Homo sapiens: one gene and its partners. The protein of the gene in region 7 purifies or fractionates together with the protein of the main gene of each other region. This does not show direct contact. Each region holds a gene or a part of one and is shown on either strand. Other genes may lie near its edges.

Region 1 (4,147 bases), on a different chromosome or scaffold from region 7:
CCATGCCAGTACTTACCTATTTCCTTTTTTTAAAGTGGCTGTATAGTTGGTAAATCATTACCAGCAAAAAGACCTATTATGGAGCCAGACTGAGTGGGTCTGGTGTTTCAGCAAGCCACTCAAGCTCTCTGTGCTTCAGTTACCTCATCTGTAACAGGAACATTTTCACCGTACCTGCTGCATAGGGTTTCTGTGAGAATTTAATGAGCCAATATCGTTCAGAATAGTGCCTGGCAGATGAACGCCCTCGTGGTGACTCCATGATTTATTTACCTAACATTGAAGAACTGTTTTAAGCAAGGGAGTGAGCGATATAATCTGGTTTCTTTTTAGAATAAAAAAAACATCACCCTGGCACCTGTTGGGGATGTTAAACGGGAGGAAGATCAGTCAGTGATGGATATCTTCTTGTGAGACTCTTGCAATACATAGTGATACGGAAGACTGGTTGGTACTGGCAGAGGAAGGAGAGGAAAAATAAACTCTTGAACCACTTTTAAGAGACCAAATGCTAGAACTTGTTGACTGCTGATGGCTGAGAAGAGACAATCTGACAAGTTCGAGATTTTTGGCTTAGTGGCCTGTGTAAATGGTGGTGCCACATTCGTATATTTTTTTTTTTTTAAAGATTTTTTGTTTCAGTGTCTACTACGGATCTGGCACTGTTCTAGGTACAGGAAATACGGAAACAGGATCTCTGCTCCGAGGAGCTTACACTCCAAGAGATATTTATGACTGGGAAGAGGAGACCCAGAAATAGTTAAGTAAACACATAAATGAACAAGAATGGCAAGCTAACTTAGCATGTCTTGATTGAACAGTAGGGGTCCAGTAAATATTCAGTAACTTTAAAACATCCAACCCTGTACGAGTTTAACAATCTCTCCTAACGGTGATTACAGGAGCCCGTGATTCATTCACAGCGGCAGACGAGCGCCAGGAAAGGGTTATTTGATCTGATCCCTCAAGTTCCGGAGGCAGCAGGTCAGACGATCGGCCCCATTTGGCAGCCAGGAAAAAAGCTTAAGCATTTTGGCCAAGGTTACACAACCCGAAACACCGGGACGCGGCCCGGAGGCGGCTTCGGCCTTGCGGTCCAGGCTAGGCCACTGCGCCGGGGCCCAGCCTGCTCGGCGCCCGCCCGAGTGCTCGGCAGGCCCGTAGCGCCGCGGCTCCCAGGAGCCGAGGGGCAGCCGGCGCGCAGGCGGCGGTTGCCGGGCCCTCCCTCGGCCCGGCGGCGGTGGCGGCCCCGCGTCGCGAGGCACTTCCGGCGCGTGCCGGGGTGGCCGGATGACGTGGCTGAGTCAGAGGAAGAGGCTGAGGAGGCGCGGGGGGCGGGGGAGGCTCAGGAGCGGGCGGTGACGGCGACGGCGGCGGCAGAGGAGGCAGCGGCTGGGCCGGGCCCCGTGCGTCTGTCCGCGCCCCGTGGATGCGAATCGGCCGCGGCGGAGGCGGCGGCGGCGGAGGAGGCGGCGGCGGGAGGAGGAGTCGGTGAGCCGGCTCCGGGCCGGAGGGGCGCGGAGGATGAGGCCGCTGCCTGGCGCTCTTGGCGTGGCGGCGGCCGCCGCGCTGTGGCTGCTGCTGCTGCTGCTGCCCCGGACCCGGGCGGACGAGCACGAACACACGGTGAGGCGCCCCGGCCGGCGCGGCCGCCCCGGGCTAGCTCCCCAGTTGCCCACTGAGGCAGGCCCCACGCAGCCTGGAGTGCCCGGCGGCCCGGTGGTGCCCCACTGCGGCCCGAGGACTCCTTCCGGTTGGGCCTGGCGGAGCAGGAACCTTGGGAGCGTGGAGGAGGCATTTCCGTGCGCTCCCGGGACAGGGCTCCGCTCCCGAGTGACAGGGTCTCCTTCCCCCGGTCTGGGCCTCAGTGGCGCCGCACCCCAGGGTCTCGGGGTTCCTGGGACCCTGGGGCCAGGAAGGAGCCTGGGAAGGGTTGAGGTTCATCCACCGCGGGAGCGGGGCAACGGGCAGGCTGGGCTCGGGGCTTTTGCCCCCCAGGGAAGGAGACTGCCTTCTGGCTACTGAGGGCTGCGACGCCGAGGAAGATGGATGCATCGTGATTACCCGGCAGCCACTAACCAGGAAATATCCTACACTTTATGGTCTCCTTTGGCTTTTATCGCCCGCTTCTGCCCAGACCGGATTAAAACCCTGGGGTGGGGCAGCATTAATAAACTTGAATTGAAGAGCAGTTTATACTTACTTGTAAGTGCACCCAACCTACACGCGTTCAATTCCTAGGCCTTTCTTGTAACTTTCTCCTCACCTTCCAGCCCCTAAGTGAGACCCCCATCCCGATAGTCTCTAACTAAGGCAGCTTCTGACAGTAAAGGGTCTTGACGTTTCCCAGTCTTCAGGTCAGGGCCAGAAACAGTCCCTTTTGCATTTGGCCTAAAGGTGATTGGCAGTTTGTTTAATTGGTATTCTCACATCAAAACGTGCATGTGAACGACTCTTCAAATGGCTTTCACTTAGGGCTGTAACTGTGGTTTTCAGAGTGGTAGACTTGAGCAAGGCAGGAAGGTCAGGTAAATTGAGAGTTTGCTTGACGAGTAATTGTTTTTTATACCTTTACCATTAATGATAGGAGTTTCTATGAGAGACTGTGTTTGTACTAAATCAGAACGATCTGAGGGAGTCTTATGTCATTTCTGGTAAGTGAGGAAATGAAGCAGTCGTCCTTACCTATTTAATGGATCCGATTTTATTTGTAATCAACAAAACTTTTCGCTGGATCCTTGGCTAGCTGGGATCTTATTTTAGCTAATAAAAGCTCTAAACTTTTGACTGTTCTACCTTCGGTCACAGCCAGAAACTTCTTACCTGTGTAGGTATGTATTTCTTTAGAGACACAAATCTCGAATTGGTGACATGTTTTTGTACTGTACTTGTGGTGTTTCACCTAAGATAATTTTGTTGGGAGGTTAAACAGCTTAAAACGATTTCCTTTTGTGTTCTTTCATCAGATAAGCTGTCTCAAAGTTTAAGAACTGCTATTGTTTCACATAGTATACAGGGACCATGTATAGATTTGGGTCTTTGAGTATTTTTAAATTTTCAGTGGGCATCCATCCTTCTGTTTAATGATATTATTACTAATATATTTCCAATTAAAAAAACACTTAGGAAAAGTTACCATATGAAACTCAGAACTCTCAATGTGTAGTTCCGTGATACAGGCATATAAGCTCAAAAGTGTACTGTATTCTACTTTTTAATCTTGTAATCTTGTGACTTACACTGCTGTGATTAGGGAAACCATTAAAATTTTACAAATTGGGTGTATATAAAGGCTTTAGAATAATTTACAAATTAAAAGTGTAATTTCAATGCAGTTTTATTGCTAGGACTATTTCAGTTTTTTATTCTAGTAATTGCATATAAGATATTTGATAAAAGGTTTTTGTTGACTGCCACGAAAGATAATATGGTATATATGAGATGGTTGCTAGACAAAAAATTTAGAATCCATATTACTTCATGTCTATATTGAACTGCTCTTACTTGGTTACCCATTATTAAATACCTATTATTTATTTATTTATTTTTGAGACAGAGTCCCACTCTGTTGCCCAGGCTGGAGTGCAGTGGTGCTGTCTCACATCACTGCAACCTCAGCCTTGCGGGCTCAAGCGATTCTCGTGCCTTAGCCAAGTAGCTGGGATTACAGGTGTGCGCCACCACACTTAGCTAATTTTTGTATTTTTAGTAGAAAGGGGATTTCGCCATGTTGGCCCGGCTGGTCTTGAACTCAAAACGACTGGCCTCAAGTGATCTGCCTGCCTTGGCCCCACAAAGTGCTGGGATTACAGGCATGAGCCACCACGCCTGGCCGAATATGTATTGTAAAAAGCAAAACAAAAACAAAAACAGTTATGGGAAGAATAGCATCTAAAAATAAGCATAAAATTCAAATGTCATTTATATTATTTTTTCACTGTTAGCCAAAATCTTTTGCTTTTTCTAAATTTCTTGAAAATATTTCTCAAAAACTAGGCATTCCTATTCCTCTTAGCCAGATAGTAGTACCGAAAAGGCTAATGTCAAGTGAGTTTTATTTATTTTTTTCTGTCAAAGAAGCAGAAGTAGCTAGTAAAGAGAGAATAATACTAAAGGAAGAGGAGACATTGGTGTGGGGAAGTTGCTG
Region 2 (3,500 bases), on a different chromosome or scaffold from region 7:
CTGTCCTCAGAACACACGCCGTGGGAGTCAGGGAACGAGAGGAGCCTTGACATCAGCATCAGTGTCACCACAGACACAGGCCAGACCACTCTCGAGGGAGAGTTGGGTCAGACTACACCCGAGGACCATTCGGGAAACCACAAGAACAGTCTCAAGTCGCCAGCCATCCCAGAGGGTAAGGAGACGCTGAGCAAAGTATTGGAAACAGAGGCGGTAGACCAGCCAGATGTCGTGCAGAGAAGCCACACGGTCCCTTACCCTGACATAACTAACTTCCTGTCAGTAGACTGCAGGACAAGGTCCTATGGATCTAGGTATAGTGAGAGCAATTTTAGCGTTGATGACCAAGACCTTTCTAGGACAGAGTTTGATTCCTGTGATCAGTACTCTATGGCAGCAGAAAAGGACTCGGGCAGGTCCGACGTGTCAGACATTGGGTCGGACAACTGTTCACTAGCCGATGAAGAGCAGACACCCCGGGACTGCCTAGGCCACCGGTCCCTGCGAACTGCCGCCCTGTCTCTAAAACTGCTGAAGAACCAGGAGGCGGATCAGCACAGCGCCAGGCTGTTCATACAGTCCCTGGAAGGCCTCCTCCCTCGGCTCCTGTCTCTCTCCAATGTAGAGGAGGTGGACACCGCTCTGCAGAACTTTGCCTCTACTTTCTGCTCAGGTTTGTAAACAATTCTCTGCTGTATAGTCAACAAGATTATTCAGAGCAGTTTGCCTTAATGGGCAATTACTATCATGCTTATAGTTTGACGTGCTCAAAGCATATTAATGTATCTTTGGGTTTCCCCAGTTTAAAGAGGGCGAAGAAATCTAAGACCTATTAGTGGTGGTTTATTTGAATTCTACAGCAGTCGATGGCTGGAATATACTATGAGGCTGATAAATGTATAGGATGTAAAGTAAAGAATGAGAAGTAGCTGCATTCTAGAAAGGTGCTACTGATTGAAACAAGATGACAATCTGTAATTCTTAAAACATTGAATTCCCAGTATGCTTCTATGTCTTGGTGTCTAAAATTCATAGAGCAATGTACTTTTGGTGTATCAAAATGTAAACAATTTTGAATGCTGTCTTGGATCAGTTGCACGCCAAGTCCTCCCAATATATTCTGAATTCTAGTGAACATTCGAACAATGTGTGATAGTCTAGTATAGCTTGGTAACGTTGCATTCTCCCATCTCAGATCCTTCCATCTGTTGAATTGTGACTCAGACCGTAAACAGTGGTGCTGGGGGGAATAGTGGGCAAATCACATCAGAAAATAATGCTGGTATTATTGAAGGGCAGAAGAGAATCACTTAGAGTTTTGGTGGAGGAAGCAGATAAAGAATACAGGGAAGTAGTAGCATTTCACATAGTAAATAATTATTTTTAAGATAGTGTTCTTGAAAGATAATACAGAAAGAAATAAATTAATGGGTACATAAAATTTATGGTGGGAATAAATGTTGGTATGGTACCAGGGAGGTCATCTGTGCCTTTCCCTCAAGTACAAGGGTCTCTTGACCACAGAATACTGGGGCAAATGAATCTCCCTAAGCCTGTGCTCAGATCCAAAGGGCTGACCCTGGGAACTGACACAGAACTGCTAAAAAGCCATGATCACCACTTGCTCTTCTACCACTTAACCTTGAACTTGTGTTTGTCATTGTGCTTGGTGCATTTATCACAGTCATGTGTTAATGCATCCACCATCCCTTCTACCCTCCCCTCTCTAGACTCCCTGCTCTTTGAGGGCTGAGACCTTGTCTCACTTCCTTTTTATTTTCTAACAAAACTTCACACACATACATGAAAAAATTGTAGCCCAGTTACTGGAACTTGGTTAGAAGCTGACTGATGTGTAACTTAACAAGTATCTTTAAGAAGCTGACCAAATTGTCCTTTTTCAAGAGGACAAGAAAAAGACACTTAAATCTCTGTATATATAAGAAGGAACAAATTTTTTTTTCCTTTTTTTTTTTTTTTTCTGAGAGAAAGTCTCACTCTGTCACCCAGGCTGGAGTCCAGTGGTGCAATCTCGGCTCACTGCAAGCTCCGCCTCCCGGGTTCATGCCATTCTCCTGCCTCAGCCTCCCAAGTAGCTGGGACTACAGGCGCCCACCACCACACCGGGCTAATTTTTTGTATTTTTAGTAGAGACAGGGTTTCGCTGTGTTAGCCAGGATGGTCTCGATCTCCTGACCTTGTGATCCGCCCGCCTTGGCCTCCCAAAGTGCTGGGATTACAGGCATGAGCCACTGCGCCCGGCTGGAACATTTTTTAATAAGAGAATTATCCAAAGTTGTAGCAAGCACCAAAGGAGACACAGAATTTTTACTCCAGAAATTTTCACATGACCTAGAAAAGGATGTAAAGAGACATGATTTCTCAACTTTCCTAATTCTTATTTCCTAAGAATTTCATACCTTATTTCCTAATTTCACATCAATTTTTAAGGCTACCTAACATATTTTTTTCCTCAATATTTTTTCTTTTGGAGTTAAATATAACAAATTTTGGATTTTTTTATTTGTGTGTGTAACAAAATTCACGTTTTATTGGAAGACTAGGAAAATGTATACTCTTCCTAAAAAATTATTTTTCTCCCTAAGATCTTTTATATCACTGTCATTAAATTTGACATTCTCTTATTGAACATTCTAGGGGTGTGTTTTGTGCATGTTTGTGTCTGTCTGTCTGTCTTTTTGTCTCTCTCTCTCTCAGACACACCCACCCAAATCCTCCTTCAACCAACATTTATAGAGAAGCCGAATTGTGCTATATGCTAAGGTCCCAAGATATGTACAGCTTATTCTCAATAAATATTTATTGATTGTAAATTGATGAAGTTGTACTTCGGTCTCTCTCTCTTTTATTTTGTAACAGGGTCTGACTCTGTTGCCCAGGCTGAAGTGCAGTGGCTCAGCCTCCCAAGTAGCTGAGACTATACGCACCACCACACCCAGCAATTTTTTTTTTAATTTTATAGATACAGGGTATTGGCCAGGCATGATGGCTCACACCTGCCATCCCAGCACTTTAGGAGGCTGAGACGGGTGGATTGCTTGAGCTCAGGAGTTTGAGACCAGCCTAGGCAACATAGGGAGAACCTTTCTCTACAAAAAATACAAAAATTAGCCAAGCATGGTAGTGCACCTTTGTCCCAGCCACTTGGGAGGCTGAGGCGGGGGGATCACTTGGGCCTGGGAGGTTGAGGCTCCAGTTAGCCATGTTTCCACCACTGCCCTTCAGCCTGGGCAACCGAGCAAGACCCTGTCAAAGAAAGAGAAAGAGAGAAAGAGAAGAAACAAAAGAAAGAGAAAGAGAAGAAAGGAAAGGAAGGGAAGGGAAGGCAAGGGAGGGCAGGGCAGGGCAGGGCAAGGCAAGGCAGAGAGAAAGAAGGGAAGGCAGAAGGGAAGGGAAAACGGAAGGGAAAAGGGAAAGGAGAAGGGAAAGGGTCTCACTGTGTTGGAAAGAAGGAAATAAAGAAGAGATGAGGCCTCACT
Region 3 (3,407 bases), on a different chromosome or scaffold from region 7:
TGGTGGAAAACATCACAAACCTGGCACACCATTTGAATATCCCTAATATCATTCCAGTCGCTTTCCTCATCAGTTGCCTTTCTATTTCAGTTCATTCACAGATCTCACTTCTGAATGTGCCACTTCCAGTAGACATGCTGGTCAAAGAGCAGTCATCATTGGGGTGAAGTGTTCTTGACAGTTTAATATGATTCACTTTTCTCCAAAGACATGTAAAAGGCTGTTACGAAAGCTTGGCTTCTGTCATGGAGACGGAAATGGGCAAGCTTCCTTCCGTAGCCTCTTGTTAATCCTTAAACATTAAATATTTCGGGGGTAATAGAGCCACTGGTGAGTAAAAACCTATATAAAAACCAAAATTATAGGATTTTTTCTTTTTTAGTAAAAACCGGTATCAAAACCAAAATTATAGGATTTTTTTCTTTTTTAGTAAAAACCTATATAAAAACCAAAATTATAGGATTTTTTCTTTTTTAGTAAAAACCTATATGAAAACCAAAATTATAGGATTTTTTTCTTTTTTAGTAAAAACCTGTATAAAAACCAAAATTATAGGATTTTTTTTTCTTCTTTTTTAGAGAGAGAGATTAGAAAACGACATTAGGAATTTCACTTTAAAATGCGCATTACAAACTTCTTAGGTGTTCCAGGAATTATCAAGTGACTTTAAAATGACTTTTCCAACCTGCTTTGTTTTTAAAAATTATATTCCAGTTTTAATCATTGTAAAAAAAGCACCTGGAGTTTCAAAACATGTGAATACTACCAAGTTTCTGTCCCCAAAGTCAGGCATCACTGTTAGTCTTTTGGGACAGATGGGACAGATGTTCACTTTAATGTTTTACTTGAAGTTTTACTGCTCTTTGCCATGTGGTAAAAAGAGGCTGAGACATATTTAAGAATTCCAAGAGGATATTATGTGTCAGAATTTCAGACACTGATGAGAAGTTTTTAATTGTTCTTTTTTATTTGATTTTGGAATTCAGGTGCACTCTATTCAAGTGCAAGGATATCAGAAGTTTTTTTTTATTTAAAAAATTTTTTTTTCGAGATGGAGTTTCACTCTGTTGCCCAGGCTGGAGTGCAATGGCAGCTTACTGCAACCTCCACCTCCTGGTTCAAGCGATTCTCCTGCCTCAGCCTCCCAAGTAGCTGGGATTACAGGCACGCGCCACCACACCTGGCTAATTCTATTTAGTAGAAATGGAGTCTCACCATGTTGGTCAGGCTGGTCTCGAACTCCTGACCTCAGGTGATCCACCCACCTTGGCCTCCCAGCGTGCTGGGATTATAGGCATGAGCCACCAGGCCGGCCCCAGGATTTTATATTAAGCCTTCTTGCTCTCAAAAAAAAAAAAAGGTTTTAACTATTCCATTTCCAGATGAATCCCATGAGCGCTGCTTACTGTTGAATACCAAGGTCTAGGGCTCTGCTTCCTGTAGACACGCACACGTTGTCTCCATCCAATGGCCTTTTCTGAAGTTACAGAAAACACCAACATGGGAGGGAGTTTATGAAGCAAAGGCAAAGGCAACACGTCGGCTAGCTTCAGGGTAGCACCGTGAGAAATGGGCTGTATTGATACTGTGAATGTTTGTTTTCCAAGCTGTTTTATACAGGTTTGTTTTTTCATGGTGTAGGGTATTTATGACAAAGTAAATGTTGTGAAGGTTAAAGATAAATTAAGATTATCCACCAAATGCTAAAAATACTGATGTGTAAATCACCTTTATCGCCTCACCTCTTCTACAAGCTTTTGTGGCTTGAGGGCTTTTGTTTTTGGCTTTTGTCTGGATGAAAGTTTTGCCCAGTTGTGTTTTAAAAACAATTCCTCATGAACACTAAGATTAATTGTGTCTGTATCTCTGGAACTGGGTGCTCATGTTGGTTTTAATGAGCTTGCAACCCTTCCCCGTTTGCTTTGTTTAAGGAGGTGCCTCTGTTCTTTGTGGAGGAGTGAAATGGAGCTTTAAGTGTGTGTGTGTGTTATGTGTGTTTGCACACACGCGTGTGTTATTGTAGCAATAACAAAAAGTAGCCATCTCCTTGTTCCAGCTGAAAACCTGCTGTGAGAGTTTTGACAGAGCACTTTATTTTCGTCAAGTTTCAAGTCTGAGTTCAAAACCAGCCCTGATCCCTTATGACCAACTGCTACTCGACCAGTCGCCACTCAGTGGCCACCTGGTGCCCGTTTAGATTTTTGCTTGGGTTTTACTGGCCACCTCTATAGACGAGAGTTGCAAAGTTGCTTTGAGCAGAGAGGGAAAGATTAATTTACACTGCTGGCCACCGAAGGCAGGTGTTTCCTGGGTAGTAATCTCACGGCTCTTGATCTGGAAACTTCAGAGTACAAATTGGTGGATGGTGGAAGGCAGGACACGTATCTCTGTCTGACGGAAAACAGACCTCGGGGCTGGCGTAAACCCTGCTGCCAGGCCCTCTCCCCACTGCCCCAAACCGGCCTAGACACGAAGACCAAAGCAGCCTGCACAGGGCAAGGCCCCCGCGGAATCCTGCAGAGCAAACTCAGGTTAACTTGGGTCCATGACCGTTTGCATTCGAAACACAATACACTGCCTCGTTCTCTCAGTTAGCAGCTGGGCAGCAGCGCACCATTCATCATTTAGGCTTGTGGTTTGTTGTTTACTCTACCAATGTTATGTCGAAACTGCATTGTAAAAAGAGAAGAAAGTGGCAGGTTTTCCAGGTCCACGGAAAGGTTTGGCCTGACGCTGGAGTGCGGTGATGAACTTACGTGACAATGATTGTATTCCTCAGTAGCACTTTAAACGCCGAAGACAGCCCTGCAGCAAGCCTGCACACGGGCTTGGGTGGGTTCCTTTGGAGAAGATGTGGCTGGAACACAAACAATCTTTGAAAGAAATAAATGTGCACACAGAACACTACACTGAGTTGTTTTTCCCGAGTCCTGTTCTGTCCTGGAAGTCCCAGGGTCTTCTCTGAGCGCCCCTTTCATCAGGTCATCCTTGGACTTCACTGTCCATTCCCCACCCCGGTGGGTGGCCCGGGTGCATGCAGAGGGGACAGGTACCTGGCTCAGCCACAGGTGGAACAGCGTCGGCACTTGCCTGGGGCTCACGGTGGTTCTGGGAGGGAGGCGGTCGAGTCGGGTCACAGACGTGTCCTGCGGGCCCCATGCAGGCATCGTGCCTTCTTTCTAGTCATCAGTTCCCGTGGTCTCCCTCAGTCTTCATTCCCCCTGCGGTGCCCAGACAGCAGAGCACGTGGAGAGCTGGTGTCCTGGAGAAAGCTACTGGACAGGCCCAGCCTCCTGTCCCCACACTGCCCACCCCTCCTCTCAGCTGTCCCGCCCGCTCGCTAGACACCGTGTAGACCCTTAGAGGGAGCCCGATGCTTCCCAGCTGGGTTCCAGGTTTTCTGCTCC
Region 4 (3,500 bases), on a different chromosome or scaffold from region 7:
CCAATAATGGGACTGCTGGGTTGAATGGTAGTTCTTTGTGTTTGTTTTTGTTTTTGCTTTTGTTTTTATTTTGTTTTGAGACAGGAACTCACTCTGTTGCCCAGGCTGGAATGAAGTGGCACAATTATGGCTCACTGCAGCCTCGATCTCCTGGGCTCAAGTGATCCTTCCACCTCAGCCTCCCAAGTAGCTGGAACCACAGGTTCGCGCCACTGCTCTTTGCCAATTTTTGTATTTTTAGTGGAGATGAGGTTGTGCCATGTTGGTCAGGCTGGTTTTGAACTCTTGGCCTCAAGCAATCCACCCACCTCAGCCTCCCAAAGTGCTGAGATTACAGGCACAATCCACTGCGCCTGGCCCACAGATTTTTAAAAGTAGTATTTTAATAAAAAGTAAAAGGATGCAAAAATGTTAGCCTGTATCTAAGGCAGTAGTTCTCAACTGGGGATAATTTTGGTTCTCCTGCCACCACCTCCTCCCCACAAATTTGGCAATGTCTAGAAACATCTTTGGTTGTTACAGTTCAGGGGAGAGGTGCTACTTGAAACTAGTGGATAGAGGCCAAACATCCAAATGTGCAGGACAGTCTCCACGACAAAGAATTATCCACCCTAAAATGTCAATAGTGCCGAGATGGATAATCCATGGTCTACAGACAGTTTAACTGTTGTGATAATGAGGCTGTATCCAAGAAATCATTATTTACTTAAATTGAAGACCGAATGGTTAGGAGAAGAGAATTTGTTTTTTAGTGCTAGCTTAGTAATACTTAGGATGTTAAGAAACATCATATTAAAATTAGTTTAAGGTAATTTATTTCTTTGAAGACTTAAAAAATCAATGAAAATGGATAACTTAGTTATATTAAAAATTAAATTTGTTTATTATATCTAGAAAGAGCTCATATCAGTTTGTATTTTAAAAATAATTTTTAGCTATAGTTGTGTATGAAGTTTCTTTCAAAGTGACTGTCTTTTGGGGCTGGGCGCGGTGCCTGACGTCTGTAATCCCAGCACTTTGGGAGGCCAAGGTGGGAGAATTACTTGAGTCCAGGAGTTTGAGACCAGCCTGGGCAACATAGTGCAACCCTGTTTCTATAAAATATTTGAAACTAGCTGGGCATGGTGGCATGCATCTGTAGTCCCAGCTACTCAGAATGTTGAAGTGTGAGAATTGCTTGGGTCCAGGACTTTGGGGCTACAGTGAGCTATAATTGCACCACTGTACTCCAGCCTGGGTGACAAAGTGAGACCCTGGCTCAAAAACAATAATAAAAATAATAAAACAACAAAGTTACTATCCCATGATGGAGTCGGAATTTAGGAATAATTTTGTTTCCTTATACCAAGTCCTCTATGATTTTTCTGTGGTTGTTAATTGGATAAATTTAAATTATGCCATATATGAATATTCTACTTTATGGAAAATGTCCCTTTTGCAAAGTTAAATTGAAGTTTGTGATTTAATAAATATGGGTCTTTGTAGTTTATTTAAAGATATAAAATAATGATGGGGAAAATTATTTTAGTAAACTGTGTTAAATTATTTAGGATGTTAACTAACCACATTCATTATTTATTAAGTTTAATAATATCAATCTTTGTTTTTAGCTCAACAGAAATAGACGATATGCTTAGAAAATCAACAAATCTGCTGCTGACCAGAACTTTGAGTAGCTGTTTACTGAACCTTATTAGAAAACCTCATATAGGTTTGACAGAGGTAGGTTAAAAAGACACATATAGTGAAATGTTTCATTGTATGAAACAATTATTTTAAATTATTGCTGAACGTCATTCTGTAAAACTAGCTTCCTGTTTTAAATGTATTAATATAAGCAGATTTGTTTTCAAAATAAAAACACCAGTGTAAATTCCAGAAATGTGAGGATCCCAGGCACAGTGGCTCATACCTCTAATCCGAGAGCTTTGGGAGGCCAAGGCAGGAGGATTGTTTGAGGTCAGGAGTTTGAGACCAGCCTGGGCAATATAGTGAGACCCTGTTTCTACAAAAAATGAAGACTATTAGCCAGGCGTGGTAGTGTGCAACTATATTCCTAGCTACTCTGGACTTGAGCCCAGGAGGTTGAGGCTGCAGTGAGTTACAATCATACCACTGCACTACACAGCCTGGGTGACAGCAAGACCCTGTCTCTGGAAGAAAAAATAAAAAAATGAGGGAAAAGGGTTCATATGGGGAATAGTAGATAAAGATGTTAGAATATCTATTTAGATTTCTGATTGCCAGACTACAGGAAAAGTCACAATCCTAATTTTTTACTTGCTAAATGTTTAAGATTTGAAACATACTATGAAAAGTTATTTTAAAATAACTGGTATTTAGACTCTTGGTGTGTGTGTGTGTGTGTGTATATATATATATATATAAATTCATACGCAGTATTTGCAACAGGCTTTTAAAATCAGATAGTTGTATCCTATAATGCTGCAATTATGTAGAAATGGTACAGTTGCTGGAAGTAATAATCCCATTTTTAAAAATTAGGTGATTTTACATACATGTAACCTGTATTTTACTAGATATATCTTGTGTTTTCTAGCTGGTACAAATCATCATAAACACAACACACCTGGAGCAAGCTTGTAAATATCTTGAGGACTTTATAACTAACATTACAAATATTTCCCAAGAAACTGTTCATACTACAAGACTTTATGGACTTTCTACTTTCAAGGTATGTAAAAATTTGACCAAAAGTTTTCATTTCAGTCACTGTAAGCAGACGTTAAGAAATTAAAGACCGTTCTTATATATGCAAGATCTACTATATTCCTAAAAATTAAGAATAGAGGTATTCATTGTCAACAATGAGCAAGTAAATGTCAGTTTCTTTTTGGCACTGTAAACATCTTATTAACATGGAGAAAAGTATACTTATTTTCTACAGTGTATTATGCTTTGTTCATGTTTTGATGATTTATAGTAGTGCTGACTAGGTCTAACTGAATTAATATTTCACAGTTTAAAAATTAATTCTATATGAGTGTTTATTTTTGAAAATTTAAAATGTAAGACAAATTAAAAAAGGATAGATTTGTTTTCCATCCTTGATTGGTTCTGATCTGAAGAAAAATAAATATTATTACATGTCATTGAAGTCCTACCTCTTTTGCGGGTGGAAAGATTTCTGTTTGAATAATATACAGAATATACTGAGGATTAATTAATGGTTGTTTTAGGTAGAATGTAAGATTAAACAATTTCATAAGGTATTTTATTATTTGGAGTCATAGATGAGACACTGGCTTAGTCTAGTGTGTATAAATCCCCTTGAATTGAATATTTTATTAAACTAATGATAAACCATGTACTGATCACTTATCTGTAAAATGGGCTTGCTAATTTAACCTTACAGCTCTTTCTAAAAGTTTCCTATTAAAAAGAATTCTCTTTAACTACTTTTGTTATATTATCAATCACCCCCAAGATTTTATTGTAGTAACTTGCATTGTAAAAAATGAATGTACTTGTGTTTTAAA
Region 5 (3,500 bases), on a different chromosome or scaffold from region 7:
TCAAATGATCTGATCAAAAAACGGGCAAAAGATCTGAACAGACATTTCTCAAAAGGAGACAAACAAATGGGATACAGGATATGAAAACATCACTGATCATCAGAGAAATGCAAATCAAAACTACAGAAAGATATCATCTTTCTCCATTTAAAATTGTTTTTATCCAAAAGACAGGCAATAACAAATGTTGGCAAGGATGTAGAGAAAAGGGAATCTTCGTACACTGTTGGCAGAAAGGTAAATTAGTACAACCACTATGGAGAACAGTTTGGGGGTTCCTCAAAAGACTAAAAATAAAACGACCATATGATCCAGCAATGCTGCTGCTAGGTATATACCCAAAAGAAAAAAATCAGTATATAGAAGATACATCTGCACTTTCATGTTTACTGCAGCACTAGTCACTACAGCTACAATTTGGAAGCAACCTGTGTCTATCAATATACGAATGGATAAAGAAATGTGGTACATATACACGATGAAGTACTACTCATCCATATAAAAGAATGAGATCCTGTCATTTCCAACAACATGGTGGAACTGGAGGACTTTATGTTAAGTGAAATAAGCCAGACACAGAAAAAACAAACTTCACATGTTCTCACTTATTTGTGGGAGCTAAAAATTTAAACAACTGAACTCATGCGATAGAGAGTACTAGAAAGATGGTTACTAGAGTCTAGGAAAGGTAGTCAGAGGGTGGAGGGGAGGCAGAGATGGTTAATGGGTACAAAAATATAGTTAGAATAAGATCTAGTATTTGATAGCATAACAATGTAGTTACAGTCAATAATAACTTACTATACATTTTAAAATAACAAAGAGTATAATTGGATTGTCTGTAACATAAGGAAGGGATACAGGCTTGAGGTGATGGACACCCTATTTACTCTAATATGATTATTAGACATTGTATGCCTGTATCAAAAATATCTCATGTACCCCATAAGTATATATACTACGTACCCACAAAAATTAAAAATTAAAAGTAAAAATAAATTTTAAAAAATTCATTCATAACTAAACAAAGATAATATGAGAGTAACTATCAAGTATCCAATAAGTGAACAAAATACACTCTTAGTTAAAACTACTACAAATAATACAACCTTCCACAGCGGTCTTGTTCTGGCAGGCAAGCTATAAAGACTAGAGAAGAACAGAGGGAAAAAAAAAAAACCTAAGAGTACTTTACTTGAACCAATATAAATACTTTCAGCTGTTCTTATCAAGTCCTCAGAACTCTGAGGGAGTGTTTTTGTGAGAACTTAGGATGTAAAATTATGCTTTCCATTCCTATTATCATTCACTAATGACAGAGTAGTATTAGAGTATGATGAATGGCTTGTTCTCTCCATATCTGAGATGGAGAAAAAGTAAGATAATTCTGTAAATAAATTAAATCACTGTCTAGGAGACAGAAATCTGCTATAATCTTTTAAATATCCTTAAATACAGATACATCTAATTCAAGGCAGAAAGATAAATCACAAATCTTACTCTTTTTTGTTTTAAAATAAAGACAAGAAATTTCTTATACATACAGATGAGTTTTAAGTCAACTACATTTCTATCTTAGACAAAACTGTTTAAGAGCTCACCTACCTTAAAATATTCTACAAGATCTCTACAAGTGACTTTAGATCCACTTATCTCTTTTTCTACCAAATTTTCAGGGGCAAGCAGCAATGGAACCAGATTTCGAAGCTCTCGTTTAAAGTCTTCATCAATATCTAGAAAACAAAAAATTGAGCAACATATTAGTCCAAAAAAAATTAGGTCCCCACTGGTACGATTTCATAAAATTCTGTTTTATGAAATAAGAATACATAGTATCTATTACTGAAGTGGATTCATTTTTTAAAAAAAAGCTCATCCAACATGCCATATCTCATAGGAAAAAATATAATCCCCCTTACTCTACTAGCCCATTTTCCCCAACCCCCTAGTAACACTGCCAGTTCAAATAACAAATAAAACATCAATAAATTTGTGGACTACCAAGACAAATTTCACATTTAGTATTAACGAAAATGTCCTTTTCAAGAGGCAAACAATTCATAAAATTGTATTAAATTTTACTACTAGATTATGTTTTACCAGCCATACTGTAAAAGTTTTGTCAATCCCCAAATGTTTTGCCAACACACTCAAAATAATCCTACAACATACATAAACTGTACTATCACTCCTGAAACAGACACTTATATCTGATTTCATCAATATAATAAAATGATAAAGCCTTTTAGCAGACTGCAATCAATTGAAAAGAAATGCTCTCAGCCTTCAGAATTTTCAGGACATCACTGCTGAGCAACAGACATTATAAAATAGGTTAATCAATATGCTAGACAGCTGCAAACAAATCAATGGAATGCTAGAGAAACAACACAGAGCATTACAACCACAACATGAACAATGCATCCAAACATTCTCCAGTATAAGACAGGACATTTAAGGCGTCATGTATTTTCTTAAAAAACTTTCCACCTCTAATAAATAAGTTCAGATTTTAGCAAGAATGGGAATTCCCACCTTTCAATCTCCCATCAAAACTAGGATTAGTTGCAACTTTAAGACCAGGATGTGGCAAAAGGAAGCAACCAAGATTTGAGAAACAATTGTGTATGTGCTTCCTTACATTCTGAAGCTCTTCATGTTGATTTTGTTTTACCTGAGGGCGGAGAGAGACAGGTGAAATTGTAAACAGAAGAAAGAAAATTTTTTTAAAGAAAATGCACACAGACTCGCATGCACACTATGCACACTTAACTCAGATGGTACTCCTAAGGAGTCTTTTTTGACAATACAAAAAATTATGAAGGCCCATTTCTGACCACTTTGTTAAGACCCCACTTTTTTTTTTTTTTTTTTTTTTTTAAAGACAGAGTTTCGCTCTTGTTGCCCAGGCTGGAGTGCAATGGTGCAATCTCGGCTCACCGCAACCTCCGCCTCCCAGGTTCAAGTGATTCTCCTGCCTCAGCCTCCCGAGTAGCTGGGATTACAGGCGTGCACCACCATGCCCGGCTAATTTTGTATTTTTAGTAGAGACAGGGTTGGTCAGGCTGATCTTGAACTTCCAACCTCAGGTAATCCACCCGCCTCGGCCTCCCAAAGTGCTGGGATTACAGGCATGAGCCACCGCACCCAGCCAACCCCACATTTTCTTAAACCACAAAAGATGTTTTTCCCAAGTAAGCTGCCTGGAACAGCAAAAACTACAAATAAGGTAGTTAATCACAGTATCTAATAACCAAATAACAAATTATGGCTGTGACTTATACACCAGTAAATAAATTAAGAATTTACCTTTAAAGTACTTACAACAGCAACAAAACAGAACAAAACAAAAAAAAAAGTATAAATTTGCCTACAAATAAAAAGTTTAGCCCCTGAACAAAGTAAAAGCTAAGATAAAAAAAATTACAGTGCAGTACAAAGACCTTAGAAATGTGTTAGAATTTCAGGTCCCTCTCTACATGATTATTTATGATTTATGC
Region 6 (3,500 bases), on a different chromosome or scaffold from region 7:
CTGGTAAGGGCTCAATAAATGTTAAGCACTTTTATAATAATGTTTTGTGACCTCGCTGACTTCATATGTAAAACAGAGGCTGTAATACCTGCATTGAACTGATAGGATGAGAATTAGAGATGATGCATGCATGTCAAGTGCTTAGTACTGTACTTAAGAGGTCGAGTCCCAAATAAATGGCAGTTATTTTTATCATGCTATTTTTGTTTTAAAGTTCTGACATTTTAGCAGGTCAGAAGAGAAAGCTTAAGCTAATCTTCAGCTTGTCATGAAGCAGTCCCATGAACTCAGTTTTCAGTGGTTTGGCTGAGAATTAGAGGCATTTTCTAATTCAACACTCACTTATCAGTTACTCATAGTAAGCTTTCTTGTGATTCTTTCATACACATTTTTAGTGCCCTGAGAATCTGGGTTTGCATTCTTTGGAGAAGGGTGGTGCTGCTAGAGATGAAGTACAATCATTGAGTAAAGGACTGGTTAGATGTGTCTTTGGCTGTGAAAATCTCACGGAAGTATTGCAAACAGCCTGGTCTGTTGTACTTAGAAATATAGGTTTGGTGTGATTTTTTTTTTTCCAGTATCATTCTTTATGAGTTGCTATGGTAACAGTGTACCCATCTGAAATGCAGGTGAAAATATGAATCCTAGATTTATGTAGGCAATATACGTGCTGTTGCTTTAGCATGTTTATCATTTTGAAGCAGATGGCAGTTATACAAGAGAAGTTTAGAAATAAAATTACCTTATACCAAAACACCTAAGTGCTATTTTTCACCGAGGTAGCTGTAGGGTTGTAGAAAGAGCCAGGTGTGGGTACTGGTCTAATCTATCTTATGTGTTTTTGCCCTTCTCAGCCTAATCTTCTATTTATAAAATGGGAACTATGATTCCTTTATGGCTTTTTCACAGATAGTTAAATAGTGTAAAGTTGCTTGGAAACGCTTGAATGCTCTGCAGATCTAAGAAGGCAGTACAACTTCATGGTATATGCTTTGGAGTTGAAGACACTAAGTTTAAAGCCCTGCTTCCACCAGCCCATTGTTGTGTGTCTGTAGTCCCAGCTACTTGAGACTGGGGCAGGAGGATCACTTGAGCCCCCAGGAGCTTGAATCTAGCCTGGGCAACATAGCAAGACCCCATCTCTTACAAAAATGATAAATACATTTCTGCTTCTACTAGTTATTCACTATGTGACCTTGGCCAAATAACTAATTTCCCCAAGCTTTAGTTTTCTGGAAATTATAATGCCTTTTAAGATTGCTATGAGAAATAATTAAGGTTTTTGTGATTAAAGAAATTAGGCAGGTGGGTGATGCTAAATAATAGGCTCTTAGAAAGTCCTATGTTGGGTAAACTGCAAATTCTCAGCCACAAGAGTATGGGGAGTTCGTTGGTCAAGTAGCACATGCCCTCCCAGTTACCCATGAGCATAGATTAAAAACAGCCAAGGTTCCAAGTGAGAAGTCCACACTTCTGACACACCTAGCAATTTCTTGAAGTGCGTTTTCTCTGAAAGAGTAATAAGTTTATTGTCAACTCATGCCTGAGGGCTCAACTTCACTGTTTAGTTTTCTTTAGCTTAGCTTCTATTTTTTTAGGTGTTCACTGTAAATACACCATCTCATTTAATCCCAATAACAGCCTTATAAAGTAGGTACTATTATTGAATCCATTTTCAGGTGAGAAAACTGAAACTTAGAAAGGTGAAACAGCATTCCATAAGCCACATATATAGAAAGCAACAGGGCCAAGATTTGACTTCAGATCTGCTGATTCCAGAGCCAAACAAGTTAGCACCGTGTTTTACTGCCCAATTTTCTCTTCCTTGGCTGTTGAGAGTAGCAGGGTGGAATGGAGAAAGCACTGGCCTATGGACCAGGAGAGTCTTGTTCTAGAATATGAGCTGTGCTCTGAGTAGAGTCAACCTTAATGTTGTGGGAAAAAAACTGGACTAGACATTGTTCCTCCTAAGTTTTGTATGACCTTAGCCACTCAGTTAACCTTTGTGAGATCTCAGTTTTCTTATCTAAAAAATGAAGTAAATAATAAGGGTGTTGCTAAGGGGGATTTTTTTTTTATCTAGAGGTTTGTTGGAAGTAACTGTAGTAGTCATGCATCCAACCTCCCACCTGATGCCTCTGTGCCCATATTTTTGTCAGTCGAGCCACTCTCTGAACGTCATATTTCACAGCTGCTCAGGTTTTGGGCCACTCTTATTTATACAGTCCTACATTAAGTCTTAAATTTTTTTCTCTCATAAAATTTCCATGTTGTGTTAAATCAGTCACTTAGTTGATCATTTTTGTAGGTGGGAAAAGTAGGGAGGAACAGTGGGAAGGTATTTCTAATACCAAACAATGTCCCTGTGACTGAACATAGCTTTTATCCTTAAATAAGCCATGCCTATTGTTCTCATTGATCTTTTTCACTTAAAGTACACAGCTGTCTTCTGGGCACACTGTGGCTGTGATGGGCATTGACTTCACACTCAGATACTTCTACAAAGTTCTGATGGACCTATTACCTGTCTGTAACCAAGATGGTGGCAACAAAATAAGGTAAGTGCTTTGGGGATGCTATTTCCTTTCTAGCTGCAGTTTAAAAATAGATGTCAGGTATCTCTAGTTGAATGGGAACCGCATAGTTATGGTCAGGAATAGAAATCTAATTTATGGCCTGGGTGTCCTATTAAGAAGGTTTTTGTTCTTTTTCTCTTCTTTCGTTTTTCTGAGATGCATACTGTTTATGATTTAGACAGACTCAGCACACAACAAGAAAAATAACTGTAGCATGGAATGCACCAAAAGCTCTTGTTTCCCTGGAAGTCAGTAATTAGAGGCTTCCCATATCTTTGGTACTAGAAAGACCAGAGAGGACTCTTGGGTAGGACTTTTGATGTTAACTTTGTCATTAAACCAAAGTCTTTGTGACATTTTCAGCTGCTTAGACTGTTCCTTTTACATTTCCCCAGAAAGAGACCATGGAACCAAAAGTCTCTGCCTCCTGAATTTCAAAAGAACTTGTCTGATCAAAGCAAGGGCATACCCTTGATTTAATGCAGGCTGCTTTTAAAAATAGCTTTCTTAGTTCCACCTCATGGTTCATGCTTCGTGTCATTGGCCCTTATGGGGAAATGCAGAATTCCTGGCAAACTGATATCACTAATGTAAAGTAAAATAAAGCAAAATATAGTCTTGATTAAAGCAGTTCTAGCTTCATTTATTGTTTCTATCAAATATAGATCAAATATAGTAGTCCCCCTCTTATCTTTGGTCTCGCTTTGTGAGGGTTCAGTTACCCATAGCATAATACAATAAGATATTTTTATAGAGACAGAAAGACCACATTCACATAACTTTTATTACTGTTATAATTGTTCTATTTTATTATTAGTTAATGTTGTTAATCTCTTACTGGGCCTAATTTATAAATTAAACTATCACAGGTAGATATATATAGGGAAAAACCTGTATATGTAAGGTTCAGTACTATCATCACTT
Region 7 (3,234 bases):
CTCACCCCTGTTCCCCTGCCCCGGCTCAGGGCTCTTCATGGTCATGTTCTCCATCATCTCCATGGACTTCTTCCAGCTGGAGGCCGCCCAAGCTGGCTACCTCATGTCCTTCTTCGGGCTCCTCCAGATGGTGAGTGGGCACACAGGGCCTGCTGGGGGGCACGGCAGGGGTCTCCAGTGGGGCAGGCCTCTGAGAGTAGAGGCTCCTCCCCGGCGGAGGCTGGGGAGCCCTTGGCCTCCCATCTGGCACATGTCAGGGTCCACAGGGAACCAGGCATACAGGCCAGGGAGGGAGAGCCAACTGCAGTGGTGGGCACGCTGTGAGGACAGTGGACTCCGGCCTCTGATGGGCAGCTGGCTGGGATCTGTGGCAGCCCACCTGCCCACCAGCTGTGTGACCAGAGCAAGTCTCCCAAACTCTCCAAATCTGTCCCATGAGGCCAAAGTGCCCGCCTTGCAGGGTCCTTGGCAGATGAGATGACCTAACGTGGCAAAGTGGTTAGACCAGCGTGGGCCCCTTTGGAGGTCCCATAGGAGCAAGACGCCAGCCCTCAGAGGCCACGCTGTCATGGTAGGATAAGACGCCAGCCCTCAGAGGCCACACTGTCATGGAAGGATGCCCTGAAACCCTGGCAGCTCCGATGCGGCAGGTGTCTGTCTGCCAGCCCCCCAGAACCGCTCAGCTCCCGGGCCGGGGCGAGACACCTCCACCACCAGCTCCTCTGGGCTTCTGGACCAGACCCTGGGTGGTGGGGACAGGTGATGATTTGCCACCACCCAGGATGGCTGCCTGACAGCCAGAGTGCGGGGCGGGGGGGCTATTCTGGGACCCGCCAGGGTGGGGGTGGGGGCTCTCGGCCTCTCCGGAAGCCTGTGGCATTCCTGGCACCTCCAAGCCATCTGCTCTTCAGCCTCTGGGCCCAGGACTAGACTAGTGCTAAAATAGCTGCTCCTGGGAGGGGCTGGACCCCCACCGTGGGCAGAGAGGGCCTCTGCTTTTTGGGGCAGGAGGGGCCACCCTGGCAGGGTAAAAAGAGATAAACAGAAAAACAACAGCAACAATAATAGTAACAATCCGGGGTTGTTGCCATGGGGCCTGTTCTGAACAGGCTGCGCCCAGCTCACTGCGAGGAAGGACGCTTAGCCAGGCCCTGGCTGAAGCCTGCAGCTGGGCTGGACACAGCAGTCATTGGCCTGTGTTGTGGGGGACTTGGGCCTGCCATGGCTGCAGTGGGGACCCTGCCTGAGACAGACAGAGCTGGGGTGGTGACCAACACCGTCGGGGCACCCTCGCAGGAACTGGGCCTGGTGAACTGCCCAGGGACGGGGAAGGAGCAGGGTGAGGCATGGGGACCCCGACACAGGTTGAGCAGCGGGAGAGGAGGCTGAGGAGGGGAAGGAGGGGGCCCGCAGAGTAGCCCCCAGACCCCAAGTCCGGTCAGGGACAAGCTTGTTAGCTCCAGGTTCATGTCACAACCTGCAGGGCTCCTAAGTTCAAGCTTTTTTAAACTTAATGGGCAAACTGAGACGCAACACAAATAGGCTTCTGACCTTGGTGTCTGAGTCCTGGATCTGAAGTCCTTCACGGCACTCACTGTGAGCCCCTCTTAGACGCACTGCACGAAGTGAGCTTGCCAGCTCTTCCTTTAAGAAACGTGTTAGGCCGGGCGCGGTGGCTCACGCCTGTAATCCCAGCACTTTGGGAGACCGAGGCGGGCGGATCCCAAGGTCAGGAGATTGAGACCATCCTGGCGAACATGGTGAAACCCCGTCTCTACCAAAAATACAAAAAAAAAAAAAAAAATTAGCCGGGCCTGGTGGCAGGCACCTGTAGTCCCAGCTACTCGGGAGGCTGACGCAGGAGAATGGCGTGAACCCGGGAGGCGGAGCTTGCAGTGAGCCGAGATCGCGCCACTGCAGTCCACGCTGGGCGACAGAGCGAGACGCCATCTCAAAAAAAAAAAAAAAAAAGGTGTTAAAATCCCAAAAAACCCTAAGATAAAGCAAGTGTGAAAGTAAGATTTTTAAACCATTTATGGTTCCGGTTGGAAGCAGTTTCTGTTCTGCCTGGCAGGAATTTGGGAGGGTGACTGGTCCCCTGCAGAGGTGCTGCAGGCTGGGCCTGCCCTGTGGGCAGATACTGAGCCCAGGGGCTCCTCCAGCCGGGGCCACCCCTGCACTCCCAGGCGCGTTGGCCCAGCACGCCCTGCTTAGTGGAGGAGCTGAGATGACCAGATAGAGAGCCTCGCCCTGGCCTGGGAGCAGCCTGCGGCCAAGCCTGTCCCACCGAGCCCATCCCCGGGAGCAGCCTGCGGCCGAGCCTGTCCCACCGAGCCCATCCCCGGGAGCAGCCTGCGGCCGAGCCTGTCCCACCGAGCCCATCCCCGGGAGCAGCCTGCGGCCGAGCCTGTCCCACCGAGCCCATCCCCGGGAGCAGCCTGCGGCCGAGCCTGTCCCACCGAGCCCATCCCCGGGAGCAGCCTGCGGCCGAGCCTGTCCCACCGAGCCCATCCCCGGGAGCAGCCTGCGGCCGAGCCTGTCCCACCGAGCCCATCCCCGGTGTCCCTGGTGTGGGCCTTTCCTTCCTCCCTTGTGGAGAGGAGCCCCGACTCCTCAGGGATCTCAGACCCATCCTGACGCAGTCACTGCTGGCGGAGTAGGGAGAGACCCCGGGGCTTGCAGATGCTGAGGGGCCTTCTCTGCAGAGGGGCCCTGGCCACCACAGGCCAGTCTGGAGGTCCCCAGCTTTGGGGGCTGGCCACAGTCCAGACGCCCCTCCCTCGCCTCCCCCATACCCACTTCTACCCTCTCTGTCTGGCTCTAGGTGACCCAGGGCCTGGTCATCGGGCAGCTGAGCAGCCACTTCTCGGAGGAGGTGCTGCTCCGGGCCAGCGTGCTGGTCTTCATCGTGGTGGGCCTGGCCATGGTGAGGGCTCCCCGCTTTGGGCCCACTCACCTGACCCTCTCACTGGGCAAGGCCACCTGGGCGGTACCATCTGTGCTTAAGCCCTTGGGGACTCCTCCAGCCCCCCACACCCACCCGGGGCCAGCTCTTCAGCAGGGACAGCAGTCAGGGTGGGGAGGGACAGGTAAGACCCCAGAGAGGAGCCTGGTCCCGTGAGGCCCCCACTCAGCTCGGCCCCCGCCTGCCGTCCCAGGCCTGGATGTCCAGCGTCTTCCACTTCTGCCTCCTGGTGCCCGGCCTGGTGTTCAGCCTCTGCACCCTCAACGTGG

What was found.
Region 1: the proteins of SLC67A1 (region 7) and TM9SF3 purify together in Homo sapiens (affinity purification with mass spectrometry; one large-scale study listed by BioGRID and IntAct). This does not show direct contact.
Region 2: the proteins of SLC67A1 (region 7) and ARFGEF3 purify together in Homo sapiens (affinity purification with mass spectrometry; one large-scale study listed by BioGRID and IntAct). This does not show direct contact.
Region 3: the proteins of SLC67A1 (region 7) and C2CD2 purify together in Homo sapiens (affinity purification with mass spectrometry; one large-scale study listed by BioGRID and IntAct). This does not show direct contact.
Region 4: the proteins of SLC67A1 (region 7) and EXOC6 purify together in Homo sapiens (affinity purification with mass spectrometry; one large-scale study listed by BioGRID and IntAct). This does not show direct contact.
Region 5: the proteins of SLC67A1 (region 7) and ATL2 purify together in Homo sapiens (affinity purification with mass spectrometry; one large-scale study listed by BioGRID and IntAct). This does not show direct contact.
Region 6: the proteins of SLC67A1 (region 7) and CACHD1 purify together in Homo sapiens (affinity purification with mass spectrometry; one large-scale study listed by BioGRID and IntAct). This does not show direct contact.

What each region holds. Positions count from the first base shown.
Region 1 is NC_000010.11:96,584,213-96,588,359, reverse strand, and holds the start of TM9SF3 (transmembrane 9 superfamily member 3 precursor), read left to right. Parts: upstream 1-1,347; 5' UTR 1,348-1,524; coding exon 1,525-1,626; intron 1,627-1,651; exon of another isoform or gene 1,652-2,049; coding exon of another isoform or gene 2,050-2,205; intron 2,206-4,147.
Region 2 is NC_000006.12:138,262,939-138,266,438, forward strand, and holds part of ARFGEF3 (brefeldin A-inhibited guanine nucleotide-exchange protein 3), read left to right. Parts: coding exon 1-673; intron 674-3,500. UniProt on the Homo sapiens protein: Participates in the regulation of systemic glucose homeostasis, where it negatively regulates insulin granule biogenesis in pancreatic islet beta cells. Also regulates glucagon granule production in pancreatic alpha cells.
Region 3 is NC_000021.9:41,884,612-41,888,018, reverse strand, and holds the end of C2CD2 (C2 domain-containing protein 2), read left to right. Parts: 3' UTR 1-2,907; downstream 2,908-3,407.
Region 4 is NC_000010.11:92,953,020-92,956,519, forward strand, and holds part of EXOC6 (exocyst complex component 6), read left to right. Parts: intron 1-1,610; coding exon 1,611-1,722; intron 1,723-2,560; coding exon 2,561-2,695; intron 2,696-3,500. UniProt on the Homo sapiens protein: Component of the exocyst complex involved in the docking of exocytic vesicles with fusion sites on the plasma membrane.
Region 5 is NC_000002.12:38,307,774-38,311,273, forward strand, and holds part of ATL2 (atlastin-2), read right to left. Parts: intron 2,675-3,500; coding exon 2,536-2,674; intron 1,734-2,535; coding exon 1,606-1,733; intron 1-1,605. UniProt on the Homo sapiens protein: Atlastin-2 (ATL2) is a membrane-anchored GTPase that mediates the GTP-dependent fusion of endoplasmic reticulum (ER) membranes, maintaining the continuous ER network. It facilitates the formation of three-way junctions where ER tubules intersect.
Region 6 is NC_000001.11:64,669,129-64,672,628, forward strand, and holds part of CACHD1 (VWFA and cache domain-containing protein 1 isoform 1 precursor), read left to right. Parts: intron 1-2,435; coding exon 2,436-2,558; intron 2,559-3,500. UniProt on the Homo sapiens protein: May regulate voltage-dependent calcium channels.
Region 7 is NC_000011.10:2,919,278-2,922,511, forward strand, and holds part of SLC67A1 (solute carrier family 67 member A1), read left to right. Parts: intron 1-29; coding exon 30-130; intron 131-439; coding exon of another isoform or gene 440-481; exon of another isoform or gene 482-2,513; intron 2,514-2,824; coding exon 2,825-2,926; intron 2,927-3,158; coding exon 3,159-3,234. UniProt on the Homo sapiens protein: May act as a transporter of organic cations based on a proton efflux antiport mechanism. May play a role in the transport of chloroquine and quinidine-related compounds in kidney. Plays a role in the regulation of lipid metabolism.